4 linked regions of the Homo sapiens genome follow. The protein of the gene in region 4 purifies or fractionates together with the protein of the main gene of each other region. This does not show direct contact. Each region holds a gene or a part of one and is shown on either strand. Other genes may lie near its edges.

Region 1 (3,500 bases), on a different chromosome or scaffold from region 4:
TGGAGTCTCCCCCTGTCGCCAGGCTGGAGTGCAGTGGCACCATCTCAGCTCACTGCAACCTCTGCCTCCTGGCTTCAAGCGATTCTCCTGCCTCAGCCTCCGGAGTAGCTGGGATTACAGGCACGGGGCACCACACCTGGCTAATTTTTTTGTATTTTTAGTAGAGATGGGGTTTCACCATTGTTGGCCAGGCTGGTCTGGAACTCCTGACCTCATGATCCACCTGCCTCGCCTCCCAAAGTGCTGGGATTACAGGCATGAGCCACCGCACCTGGCCTGCTCTGACCCCCTTTTAAAAGCTTGGCTCATCCTACTCCAATACCCCCGTCCCTCTTTCCAGCTTGACTTTTCTCCACAAATGTTTGCTGAATGAATGAATGAATAATAATAAATATATAATGAGTATAAGACTTAATAAATTAATACTAATATTAATCATGATTCTTTTTTTGGCCATCATGTATTTCTTTTCTTTCTTTTTTTTTTTTAACTGAGTCAGGGTCTCACTCTGTCACCCAGACTGGAGTGCAGTGGCAAGATCACAGCTCACTGCAAGCTCTGCCTCCAGCCTCCCGAGTAGCTGGGACCACAGGCATGCACCACCACACCTGGCAATTTTTTTGTATTTTTAGTAGAGGTGGGGTTTCACCACATTGCCCAGGCTGGTCTTGAACTCTTGAGCTCAAGTGATCCTCCTGCCTCAGCCTCCCAAAGTGCTGGGATAACAGTTGTCAGCCACCGCGCCCGGCTTGGCAATCATGAATTTCTAGTATCCAGCACATATTGGACACAGCCTCCAGGTCACAGTACCAAGTACTTTTATACATATTGCCCAATGTAATCCTCACAACAAGTCCACGAGGTTGGTGCCATTATTATACCCATTTTCCAGATGAGGAAACTAAGGCACAGAGAGGTGAATTCGCTTTCCCAGGATGCCACAGCTGGTAAATGATGGAGCCAGGATATGAGGCCTGGCCTTCCAACTCATGAGCCTGGGCTCTGAGCTCCTCTAGGTTTCTCTCTCATCTCCTTCTCCAGCAACCTTGGCCATGGACCAGCCGGCTGGCCTGCAGGTGGACTACGTCTTCCGGGGTGTGGAGCATGCCGTGCGGGTGATGGTTTCTGGGCAGGTGCTGGAGCTGGAGGTGGAGGACCGGATGACGGCTGACCAGTGGCGGGGCGAGTTCGATGCTGGCTGTGAGTGTGCCTGCCTGGGGTGGGCTCACCTTTCCTCTCCTGGGATCAGCTTCTCCCAGAATATCAGGCCACCCTGAATCCTGCCCACCTGCCTCTTCTTTGTCACCAGAAACTCTCCAGTGTGGGGAGGGGTGTAGGTCTTGTTGCTCAAGCCAGAGACACTGGAGTCGGGTAGAATTGCAGAGCTTAGGTGCATTGCCCTGGGGCTGGGCAAGCGGTCAGACCTCAGGAGAGACTTTTCTCCCCACCCAGTCATTGAAGATTTGACTCACAAGACAGGGAACTTCAAACAGTTCAACATCTTCTGTCATATGCTGGAGTCAGCCCTCACTCAGGTAGGGCCCGGGTTGGCGGGTTGGGGTGGGAGGGGGGTTCTGTCTTCCAGGTTCCAGGGGGGTTGATGCCCATCTGATGTATGTAAGACCCTCTACCTTCTCTTTCATTGTGGGAAGAGGGCGATCATTTTCTTCTTTTGCCAAGTGTAAATGCTTCATTTTGAACTTAATGATAGTTATTCTCATGTAGAAAATTTAGGTCACAGAGAAATATAAAGAAGAAAGTAAAAATCACTCCAGCCCTAATACTCGCTTCTGTTAATATTTTGGTGAAAATCACTCCAGTCCTTTCTCCATGTCTCTGTTTGTTTCCAAATACGTGTGTGTGTGTGTGTGTGTGTGTGTGTGTGTGTGTGTGTGTATGCATTTGCAGATCTGTAATTATATATAGTTTATATAATTTCCAAGGTATTCTGCAACCTGCTTTTTTTGGTTTGTTTGTTTATTTTTTTTTTGAGATGGAGTCTCGCTCTGTCGCCCAGGCTGGAGTGCAGTGGCACCATCTCAGCTCACTGCAACCTCCGCCTCCCAGGTTCAAGCGATTCTCCTGCCTCAGCCTCCTGAGTAGCTGGGATTACAGGCGCACGCCACCATGCCCGGCTAATTTTTTGTATTTTTAGTAGAGACGGGGTTTCATCATGTTGACTAGGCTGGTGTGGAGCTCCGGACATCAGGTGATCCACCCGCCTCTGCCTCCCAGAGTGCTGGGATTACAGACGTGAACCACTGCGCCCAGCCTGCAACTTGCTTTTAAAGGATTCAGCAATATCTCATAAAAATGTAGTCACATCAGTGAATATAGCCATTCATTCATTTCATTTGCTGAGCATTGACAGTGTGTCAGTCATTGTGGGGGACACTGGCGATACAGCAGTGAACAACAGACAAAACCCCTGTCCTCATGAGGCTGACATTTTGGAGAGACAGACAAATGAAAAAATACATAATGTCAGGTATTTAAAAGTTTTTGTTTGTTTGTTTGAGATGGAATCTCACTCTGTCTCCCAGGCTGGAGTGCAGTGGCGTGATCTCAACTCACTGCAATCTCTGCCTCCTGGGTTCAAGCAATTCTCCTGCCTCAGCCTCCCGAGTAGCTGGGACTACAGGCGTGTGCCGCCACACCCGGCTAATTTTTGTATTTTTAGTAGAGATGGGGTTTCACTGTATTGGCCAGGCTGGTCTTGAATACCTGATCTCAAGTAATCCTCCTGCCTTGGCTTCCCAAAGTGTTGCAATTACAAGCGTGAGCCACCGTGCCCAGCCTAAAAGTAATAATCAGGGGGAAGAAGCAGGTTAGAACTTAGAGTGACAGGGATGGGTGGTATTTAGATATCTTTTTTTTTTTTTTTTTTTTTTTTTTGAGACAAGAGTTTTGCTCGGTTGCCCAGGCTTAGTGGCACAGTCTCAGCTCACTGCAACCTCCGCGTCTCGGGTTCAAGTGATTCTCATGCCTCAGCCTCCCAAGTAGCTGGGACTACAGGCCTGCCCACCATGCCCAGCTAATTTTTGTATTTATTTATTTATTTTTTTTGAGATACTATCTGTGTAGCCCAGGCTGGAGTGCAGTGGCATGATATTGGCTCACTGCAACCTCCGCCTCCCGATTTCAAGCAATTCTCCTATTTCAGCCTCCCGAGTAGCTGGAATTACAGGCATGCGCCATCATGCCCGGCTAATTTTGTATTTTTAGTAGAGACGGGGTTTTGCCATCTTGGCCAGGCTGGTCTTGAATTCCTGGCCTCAAGTGATCCACCTGCCTCGGCCTCCCAAAGTGCTGGGATTACAGGTGTGAGCCACCGCGCCTGGCCTGGACAAGCGATAGTTTCTTAAAGGTTAGTTGCAATGTGGAATCTGCATCCTCATCAGTGAACTTTTTGTATTGTTACATTAAATTCCACTGACTTATCTTGCATTTTGTATGGATATTTTTTTACCTGTGGATGATCTTGTAACATCATGCATTGG
Region 2 (3,500 bases), on a different chromosome or scaffold from region 4:
CAACCATCTTTTCCACATTATGTATGCAAAGTAAATTTGAAAAATGGGGAATGTTCATATTCCATATTGCCATTCTTCCGAAAGAATGCCATTTTTTGTGTCTACAGATGTTCTCTAGATTTCAAAAGGACAGGGGACAAAGAAACTTGGTTCTTTTCTCAAACTTGGTTCCTCTCTGAAGATACTAGTCTTCTGGCAGTGTTGGCAAGACTGAAAATAAGACTTTCATTTCTAAAAATGTTGCCTCATCTTTAGTGAGCAGACTTACAAGCTTTTGCTGAAAGCTTTATATTTACCATAAGAGTTTTCTTTCTTGGAAGTTTGTTATAATAAACTGTGGTGATATAGACATAATAGCCAACCATCTCTCATTCCCTTGTGTTAATCTGGTGGAGATTTATGAATATCATAAACTTCAGTTCTCTCCCAATTCTGTTTCTAAATAGACTTTGTTACTGATTATAGTAGTCAGTTCTTTCCCAATTCTGTTTCTAGATAAATTTGTTGGTTTCTGCTTATAGTAGTATGTCTGTTGAAAACATGTTCTGAGAACTTCTGGAGGGTGTTATATTCCCCTCCCTTTTTTTTCATTTTTGATGCCTCCTTCATTGATTTAAAAATATTAATTGTATGACATGATTAGAGGTGGTAGGCAGGAAATTGAGTTCTACCAGAAGCAGCTGTGGACTCTTAACTCTGAGTCTTAGTGGTTGTAGATTGGTTACAGATTTTGTGATAAGCAAGTTCCTATGTTACTTGCTATTGTGAACAGTTTCAGTAAAGATCGTGCATGTAACAATATTACCTGAGACCTAGCAAGACAATTAAATTTGTTATACTTAGAAAAAGTAGACTCTCACCATGAAGCCTGTATGCTCTAAATGCAGGCCTGTTTTCTTCTGTCTTAATATTTACTTGCCAATTAGTTTCCCATTTTTAACATGTCTTTTTTCCCCTTTTTCTTTCTTTGATTGGAATCTAGCAACTACATGCGATTATAGCAGCATCTGTCTCTATAAAGTCGTCCCAAAAACTCAAGAAAATTCTGGAGGCAAGTGCAGTTTTTCTTGTAGGTATGAAGGACTACTTCAGCTGCGTTCAGTGCCTGATGTGCTGTACTGATGGGCTTCTGTTTTCACCTTCTTTTGCAGATCATCTTAGCCCTTGGAAACTACATGAATAGCAGTAAAAGAGGAGCAGTTTATGGATTTAAACTTCAGAGTTTAGATCTGGTGAGTGGACTAAAAGAAATTTGAGAGCTGTTTGAAGGACAGATGGCTGGCAGAGATGAAGTTAGGGTGGTGGAGGATGTTTTGATGAATATTTTCTGCTATGGGAGGATCAACTGGTACTAATTTTCTGGAACACCATTTGACAGAGAGCACATAGAACCTATAATTACTCATACCCTTTGACTCAGTATTTCCATTTCTAGGAATTTTTTCTCAAGTGTCTGAATTTTGAATCCTGTATTTTATTTATAATTGCAAATTAACAATCTAAAGGTCTAACTGTGGGAATGATTAAATGTGCTGTAACACTAGTTAATACAGTGAACTATTATTCTTCCACCGTTAGCATACTGATGAAGAGTGTCCCAAGAAAGATTTGTGTTTAGAAAAGAAAGCAGGGTATGCTTTGCATGTACAGTTGAATCTCAGCTAAGTAAACTATGTGGGGAGAAAGACTGAATGGAAATAGGTTAAAATATTAGCAGAGGTTGGATGGAATCAGGAAATTTTTTCAAACTGCTTTTTGTAAGTACTTTTCTATATTTTCTTAAATTTTTGTTGTTGTTGTTGCATGCAGGGTGCTCTAATTTTCAGAGTCACCTAACTAATGTGAATAAGACTAGAGAAAATCCTCCGTGGACTCCCTCCAGACTGTGCAGGCCTAACGTGATTGTCACATGAGAAGGCTGGGCAGTGGGTTGAGTCCCCCGACCAGGGAGCTAGTTATTTAATATGGAGTGTCTAGTCAGTCACAGTTCTGGCCTCCAGCAGATCATGATCAGTTAAGCATGTCTGTTTCAGGTCTTCACAGGCTAGGAAATAAGGGAGGGCCTAAGCTAAATGTAAAAACTGGAGCATAGGAGCCCTGCTGTGTAGGAGGCACCTGCATGCACCTGCTGGCTGTACATCCCCATTTCTCCTCTGGCTTTTTACTTTGAAGAGCACTAAAATTAGAGCCGTCCTGCTTTTAAGGCAAGGAAGGTGGGATAGCAGATGCAGGGCTGGGAGAGTTCATGTAATCAGTGTCCCCCTTATCCATGGGGGCTGTGATCCAAGACCCCCAGTGGATGCCTGAAACCTCAGATAGTACTGAATCCTATATATACACTGTTTTTTTTCTAGAGATGCATATCTGTTATAAAGTTGAATTTATAAATTAGGCACAGTGAGAGATTCACAATAACTAAAAAATAAAATAGGCCAGGCCTGGTGGCTCACACCTGTAATCCCAGCACTTTGGGAGGCTGAGGCGGGAGGATCACCTGAGGTCAGGAGTTTGAGAGCAGCCTGGCCAACATGGCGAAACCCTGTCTCTACTAAAAATAGGAAAATTAGCTGGGCTAATTTTTGGGTCACAGGCACCTGTAATCCCAGCTACTCGGGAGGCTGAGGCAGGAGAATCGCTTGAACGCAGGAGGTGGAGTTTGTAGTGAGCCAAGATTGTGCCACTGCACTCCACCCTGGGCGACAGAACGAGACTCCATCTCAAAAAAAAAAAAAAAAAAAAAAATAGAGCAGTTAAATAAAACACGTTACTTGAACACAAACACTGCAATAGGCGGCAGTTAACCTGATAACCCAGATGGCTACTAAGTGATTAATGGCAGGTAATGATTACAGCGTGGATCCACTTGACAAAGGGGTGATTCTCGGTCTAGGGTGGATGGGAATGGCACGTGCGAGGTTTTATCATGCTGCTCAGAGTGGTGCGCAATTCAAATCTGATGAATTGTTTATTTCTGGAATTTTCCACTTAGTATTTTTGGATACCTGAAACCTGTGGGTTTCCTGAAACCATGGGAAGTAAACCTGTGGGTAAATAGGAACTACTGTAGAGGAAAGCTGCGAATCATTCTTAGGTGCTTAGAGTCATCCCTATAGTTAAGCATGTGCCCTGGTTGGAAAGTCCTTGAGCCAGTTAAGCATCAATGGACTGGTTCACTAAGGAACAAATGGAATCCTGACCCTCCTCTGGGAATGCTCCAGCCTGTTGGGCGACTGTTACTCAGTTAATGACTCTGGGTGGGAAATCGTCACCTGAGGGGTAAGTGTCTTGTTACCCTTTACTCTTGTACCTAACCCACGTTCCCTTTTGTTTTCAGCTCTTAGATACAAAGTCAACAGACAGAAAGCAAACACTGTTGCACTATATATCCAATGTGGTGAAAGAAAAATATCACCAAGTGTCCCTGTTTTATAATGAGCTTCATTATGTGGAAAAAGCTGCTGCAGGTACTTGATTTCAGCTATTACCGTTCGTCTTGGGTA
Region 3 (3,500 bases), on a different chromosome or scaffold from region 4:
CAGTTGAAAGAAGCTAAGCATTTTGGCTAGCTGGAAAGGTTGTTTATTCAAGGGTGGAATGGGGCTGGCAGAGGCAAACAGCCTTTCACTATGAGAATGGCAGTGCTGGCTACAAGGCAGAGTCGAGACTGGCACAGCTTCATGGAGCTCAAGCTTGGCCCAGCAAGGAAAGCCAGAGGAGCTGTGGGTTCATTAACAGGATTGTTTGGGTGCCGAGGCCTGGAAGAACTGAAAAATCTAATTTAATATCTCTGCTTAGCAAGACTTGAGACATCCTTTTCCCTAAGTAAACAAGCTTGGTAAGTAATTGAAAAAGAGAATGGATTTGAGAACAAATAGGCAGCTATGGAAGTACATGGGCAGTGAGCTATTAACAATTTTCTAGGAGGTAGATTCTGTATTCTCTGTATTCTAGGAGTACAGAGAATACTGTACACTAGGAGCATTTGCTGTATTCTCCCTTTTGTATATTGGGTCTCTGGAAGCCTACAGCGTGGTTAGAGCTGACTGAATATTCTTAGATGTGTGGCACATCCTACGTGTGGCTGGGTCCTATGGATAGTTTTGCAGGCCATGATGTGCAGTGTCCCTTTAGCAGTCATTAACTCACAGTGAGTTATCAATGGGTGTTAGTTCTCTGTGGGTCTGACAACTTAGTATAGTGAAAAGAGTGCTGGCCTGTGGCTGAACATGCTGGAGAAGAGCTTGCCTGGCCACAGGGACACAGCCACGCAGATCCAGCATGTGTCTCCCATGTGCCAAGTGGAGCCCCCAGCCAAGAAGGCAGCCACACTAGCAGAGGGTGACAAGGACAATGACATTGACCTGTTTGTCAGCGACAATGAGGAGGAAGACAAGGAGGCAGCCCGGCTGTGGGAGAAGTGGCTGAGGTGGTATGTGGAGAAGAAGGCCAAGAAGACTGCGTTGGTGGTCAAGTCCTCCATCCCGCTGGACATCAAGCCTTGGGACAATGAGACCAATATAGCCCAATTGGAGGCCTGTATGCGCTTCATCCAGCTGGACGGGCTGGTCTAGGGGGGCCTCCAAGCTGGTGCCCATGGGCTACGGTATCCGGAAGCTGCAGATTCAGTGTGTGGTGGGGGACGACAAGGTGGGGACAAACTTTCTGGAAGAGGAGATTACCAAGTTTGAGAGCGTGTGTAGAGTGTCGATGTTGCAGCTTTCAACAAGGTCTGAAGCCTTAGAGTGTGTGTGCGTGCATGCGCACGTGTGCAAGTGTGTGAGGCCCTGCCACTATTAAAAACTGAGACCAACCAAAAAAAAAAAAAAAAAAAGAGTACTGGCCTAGGAGTCATAGAGTTGTTACTCATCTATTAATGTAGGATTTTATAATTTATAGAGTGCTTTCAACAACAGTTAACATCAATGCTATAAGCATGTGTATAAGGTTTACACAGCTTTTACACAAAGGTATTGAGTAGAGGCAGGAAGTAAATCCAAGCCTTCTGATTCCTAGTCACCGTAATTTTACCATGTATAAGTCATATAACCTTTCTGAAGTGAGTTTTTCCATCTGAAATATAGACTTAATACTCACTGTGTCTACCTCTTAAGATTGTTGTAAGATCATAGACAGAATGTGAAATATTTTGTACATTGTAAAACAAATGTACAAATGTGAAGTTGCAGTGGTTATGTCACTTCTTATGTTCTGGCACTGCAGGTGTGAGCTTTGGGGAAAGCTTCTAACTACAACTGTCCATAGTGTTGTGGAACTGAAAGGATTAAGGTTTTTCTCTCTTTATGGGATTATCATTACTGTTTATCTGATGATCTTTGCAAATTTCTGAAGCTAGCCTAATTTCTGAAAATCCCAGTGGAGGAAGAAATGGAATCCTTATTTCCATGGATTCCTGTTTCCCTTGAATCTTATCAAAATGGTAGGTAGATACTTGAACAGAGTCTGGGCTCTGGATCTAACCCTCCAGATGTTCATGAGTGGGTGCTTCAGAACAGAAAAGCTGCTTTCTTCATGATAGGCACAAGCAGGGCAGGGCCTTGGCTATCATTTCTAGAGGAAGAGAATTCCAGGATCTGTTCCCCCAGCAGGGTCAGTGATTGAGCAGACTGTCTTTTGCTTTCAGTGTGAAAGACCTGGCTCTTCAGGACCTCCCTTCTCTTTCAAGGGTTGTTGATAAGATGGGCTGGCCAGTTTGAAAATAAGATATAAAACAACACACAAGCCTGGCATTATATTTTGTAAGAAGATTGCTTTATAATCGTCTCTTCCACTGATCTCCTACAACTTTCCAGAGTCATGCTTAAAAATAAAATTTTAATTTTTGTTGTATTTTTTTTTCCTTTCATTCACTTACTCTCTTTGGCAAAATAAGGACTGCAATTCCAGAAATGTGGGGAGGCATCAAAGGTATGTAGCAAATGCAGGGAGAGAAATCAGTACAGAATCAGAGCGAGGATAAGAAGAATGATGGGTAACTGAGGCCTTTTTCAGGTCAAGTTAGTTCATAAACCTTTGGTTAATAAATCCTGATTTTTCTGGATTCTTGAAAGCTTTTTGGGCTACATGTTCAGCTGTTGAGTCCAGACTTTGAGAAGGTCATTTCTGCTTTAGTGTTATTGTCAGTTATTCCTGTTGCTCCTGCTGAGTCCCTGAATCTGTAGCTCAACCCGACAGCCCGCACTGTCTCTCTCCTGAGCGTGGCTGTCACTACTGCTCTCACCGGATTGCCTGTGGTGGGGAGGGGACATGAAGCTGCTTAGACCTGAATTTCTGTACTAGAACTTTTTTCTCAGTAGCTGACACCTCCATTCAGTTTAACATGTGCCTATGGTCACGCTTCTCAGACACACAAAAGAAATGTATGTCGGTCAGGAGTGGTGGCTCATGCCTGTAACCCCAACACTTTGGGAGGCCGAGGCAGGCGGATCACCTGGCCTGGCCAACGTGGTGAAACCCTGTCTGTACAAAAATACAAAAATTAGCTGGGCATGATGATAGGTGCTTGTAATCCCAGCTACTTGGGAGGCTGAGGTGGGAGAATCGCTTGTACTTGGGAGGCGGAGGTTGTAGTGAGCCGAGATCACTGCACTCCAGCCTGGGCGACAGAGCAAGACTCCATCTCAGAAAAAAAAGAAAAAAGAAAGGTATGTCATATTCCCTGTACCCCAGGAATCATGCAGTCTTACTGGGAAGTGAGGACTACATGAAAAAAAGAAAGTATGATATGACTATGCCTCACTGTGTGGTACAGAGAGTAAGTGCTATAGAAGGCCAGGAAAATGAAAGATGAGCCTGGGCCAGAGGAGCTATGGAGTCATTTCAGGTGGAAGGGCACTTGAACTAGGCTGTGAAGGAAGTATAAACAGTTAGGTAGAACGGAGGAAGGGTGGCACTCCAGGTCAGGAAACAGAATGATTAAAGGCCTAGGGGAAGAAGCAAACATGGCTTGTATCAGGAAACAAGGTGAGCTTTGATCTGGCTTTAAAGGGGGGTCCCTGTGGGGAACAAACAGTGTGAG
Region 4 (2,892 bases):
GCCTTTTGCCATATAAAGTTTAACATTCACAGGTTCTGGGGATTAGGATGTGGACATCTTTCAAGAGCCATTATTTAGCTTACCACAATATCTGTTAAGGTTTGAGTTGGCATGGGTACATTCCGTTTTCTACCTAAAGTCCAGGGTTAGTCTGTCCTGGACTGTCTCTAGCTTCCATATACAAACAGAACATGGATTTGATGATTTCTTCGGAATAGACCTAACTGTAGTGAATTCAGGTTTCTGCAGTCCTTACTCTGGCTGGCCACAAAGTTCAATGCTAGCTTTGGAGGAAACAGCTCTAGAAATGGTGGATACTTAGGAGAAGCTGCTCTTTACTGTGTTCTGCAGGTCATTCTTCTCCTGATAAAATGGTATTACAGACTTGTAGATAAAGTGCTATTGGTTTATACAGTAATTCTTATAATTACGCAACATGTGTTTGTTGAGCTCTTACATCAGTATTATACATGGGGCTGATGATATAAAATGAGTAAGACTCAGTCCCTGCCCTCAAGGAGTTTATACTCTATATAAGTTATCAGCAAAGAGATGCCCAGCATACCGTGGGCATACAAAGGAAATGTGTCTACCCAATCTTGCTGAGTCATGAAAAGGTTCCTACGGGAGTTACACTTGTGCTGAGTCTTGAAGGCCTGAGTAAGAATATGTTGTTACTTAGCAAGGACTGACATATGGCACTAGCTGGCTTTTGGGAACCTTGGTGAGAACCATTCCAGTGGAGTGGGGAGGAGGGTAGAATCTGGACCGCAGTAGACTGGCTGCTAGAGAAGTAAGTAAGTAGATAGGTATCTGGTGGGGCTAACCAGTCGCAGTAGGGGTTGGGGGAAGCCTGAAGCAAGCTTGCTGGAAAGATGGGAAGTGGTGGTTAGGGTGTGGGATGCTTTCAGTTGAGATTTCAGAGGTGGTAATGATAGAGGCAGGGCTACAACCATGACAGGAGTTGCTGAACTGAAGAGGAGCATGTTATTAAAGCTGAAGTTGAGGAACTGAGAGGTCCAGGTGTTAGATGGATCATTCACACAGATATCAAAGCCAAGCGAATGATGACAGAGGCAGTGATAGAAAGGAAGCCAGATCAGAAGATAAAATCATAAATAATTGAGTAGAGGTTGCTGAAAGGTGGGGAGGGAACAACACAGAGAAATGCCAAATGTGCCTTCTTATGATGTGAACTTAAAGGACGGGTTTTAAAATGTCCCTTAATAACAGGAAAGATACCTCATACTCTGACACTGATGGGGGGAAGGAAGAATGGGTATTATGGACTTTTGTACATTTTTGAAGTAATCCATATATGATGGTCTCAATTTTCATGATGAATTAGGAGGACAGGTTCTTAGAACAAGAGTTTCAGAGATAAGACCCTTGAAACAGCCACTGAGAGGAACTGGAGTAATAGCTCAACAAGGAGAAATAGAAGCATCAGCGGCTGTATTGAGGAACCACTGGAGATTGGGGCCACCACCCTCTTTGCCTTCTTAGTACACTGATAGCTAAATAATTGAGCTCCCCAAGGATTATACAATGCTGGCCATATAGTGGGTAATCAATAATTCCCTTAAAAATAATAGGCTTTAAAAATTAAATTAGTACATATTTGGTCATTGTAGAAAAGTTGAAAAATAAAGAAAACTCTAACAAGTTCCTATAAATAAAAATTTTCCATAATTCAATAACTCTGAGATAATCACTTTTTACATTTGATATATTTCCTTGCAGTATTTACATTTAATGTAGCTGTATTTGCATAAGTATATGTACATATATACACACACATATATACATATATACACACATATATAGACACACATACACACACACACACATACACACACACATATATATATATATTTTGAGACAGAGTTTTGCTCTGTCACCCACGCTGGAGTGCAGTGGCGTGATCTCGGCTCACTACAACCTCTGCCTCCTAGGTTCAAGCGATTCTCTTGCCTCAGCCTCCTGAGTAGCTGGGATTACAGGTACTGACTACTACGCCTGGCTAATTTTTGTATTTTTAGTAGAGACGGGGTTTCACCATGTTGTCCAGGCTGGTCTCAAACTCCTGACCTCAAGTGATCCACCCACCTCAGCCGCCCAAAGAGCATATATTTTTAAAACCAAATGTGGGGTGATAATAACTCCTTTTTATACAGTTTTTTCTAGAGTTGACATACCAAGACTTTTTTCCCTAAGATGATTGACAAGTATTCAGAAATACACAAGCCAGTAAGGCCACAACAATTTTAGAAGCTTCCAGTGCTAGCATAAAGTGGAGGGGACCACTTGGGTAGCATTTGGCTGCAGCTTTCTCATAGTTTTTTGTTTTTGTTCTTTAAAGATCTCTTAAGCTCATTAATAATGTGAAATATTCCCTTTCTAGGAATGCAAGAAACAACACCAGGAGGTCATATCAGTTTACAGAATGCATCTTCTGTATGCTGTGCAGGTATGGTTATGCCCCTTGAAGTATCTGGACATCCTAAAGAAATACGGCAGCAGATGTTGACAGAACTCCCATCATTTAACTAGGAGAATGAACAAGAATTAGAGGAGAATCCTTTTCACTGGAAAGCCTGAATATGCCTTTTGCATTGCTTTGGATTCTGTGTCAGGAGCCTTGTGCCCTGTTTACCAGGAACAGCCCCATCTTTTAAAGCAGGGCCTCACTCTGTCATGCAGGCTGGAGTGTAATGGCATAATCTCGCCTCACTGCAGCCTCGACCCACGGGCTCAAGTGATCCTCCCACCTTAGCCTCCCAAGTAGGTGGGATTACAGGTACCCACCACCGTACCTGGCAAATTTTTGTATTTTTGTAGAGATGGGGCTTTGCCATGTTGCCCAGGCTGGTCTCAAACTCCTGAGCTCAA

Evidence for each region. Proteins that work in one complex are often made in the same cells at the same time.
Region 1: the proteins of RAI14 (region 4) and CCDC61 purify together in Homo sapiens (tandem affinity purification; one study listed by IntAct). This does not show direct contact.
Region 2: the proteins of RAI14 (region 4) and FMNL2 purify together in Homo sapiens (affinity purification with western blotting, with the first as the bait; one study listed by BioGRID). This does not show direct contact.
Region 3: the proteins of RAI14 (region 4) and MAP3K3 purify together in Homo sapiens (tandem affinity purification; one large-scale study listed by IntAct). This does not show direct contact.

What each region holds. Positions count from the first base shown.
Region 1 is NC_000019.10:46,001,967-46,005,466, forward strand, and holds part of CCDC61 (centrosomal protein CCDC61), read left to right. Parts: intron 1-1,041; 5' UTR 1,042-1,052; coding exon 1,053-1,200; intron 1,201-1,452; coding exon 1,453-1,535; intron 1,536-3,500. UniProt on the Homo sapiens protein: Microtubule-binding centrosomal protein required for centriole cohesion, independently of the centrosome-associated protein/CEP250 and rootletin/CROCC linker.
Region 2 is NC_000002.12:152,628,674-152,632,173, forward strand, and holds part of FMNL2 (formin-like protein 2), read left to right. Parts: intron 1-982; coding exon 983-1,051; intron 1,052-1,151; coding exon 1,152-1,232; intron 1,233-3,334; coding exon 3,335-3,464; intron 3,465-3,500. UniProt on the Homo sapiens protein: Plays a role in the regulation of cell morphology and cytoskeletal organization. Required in the cortical actin filament dynamics.
Region 3 is NC_000017.11:63,635,917-63,639,416, forward strand, and holds part of MAP3K3 (mitogen-activated protein kinase kinase kinase 3), read left to right. Parts: intron 1-3,500. UniProt on the Homo sapiens protein: Component of a protein kinase signal transduction cascade. Mediates activation of the NF-kappa-B, AP1 and DDIT3 transcriptional regulators.
Region 4 is NC_000005.10:34,827,328-34,830,219, forward strand, and holds part of RAI14 (ankycorbin), read left to right. Parts: intron 1-2,404; coding exon 2,405-2,470; intron 2,471-2,892. UniProt on the Homo sapiens protein: Plays a role in actin regulation at the ectoplasmic specialization, a type of cell junction specific to testis. Important for establishment of sperm polarity and normal spermatid adhesion.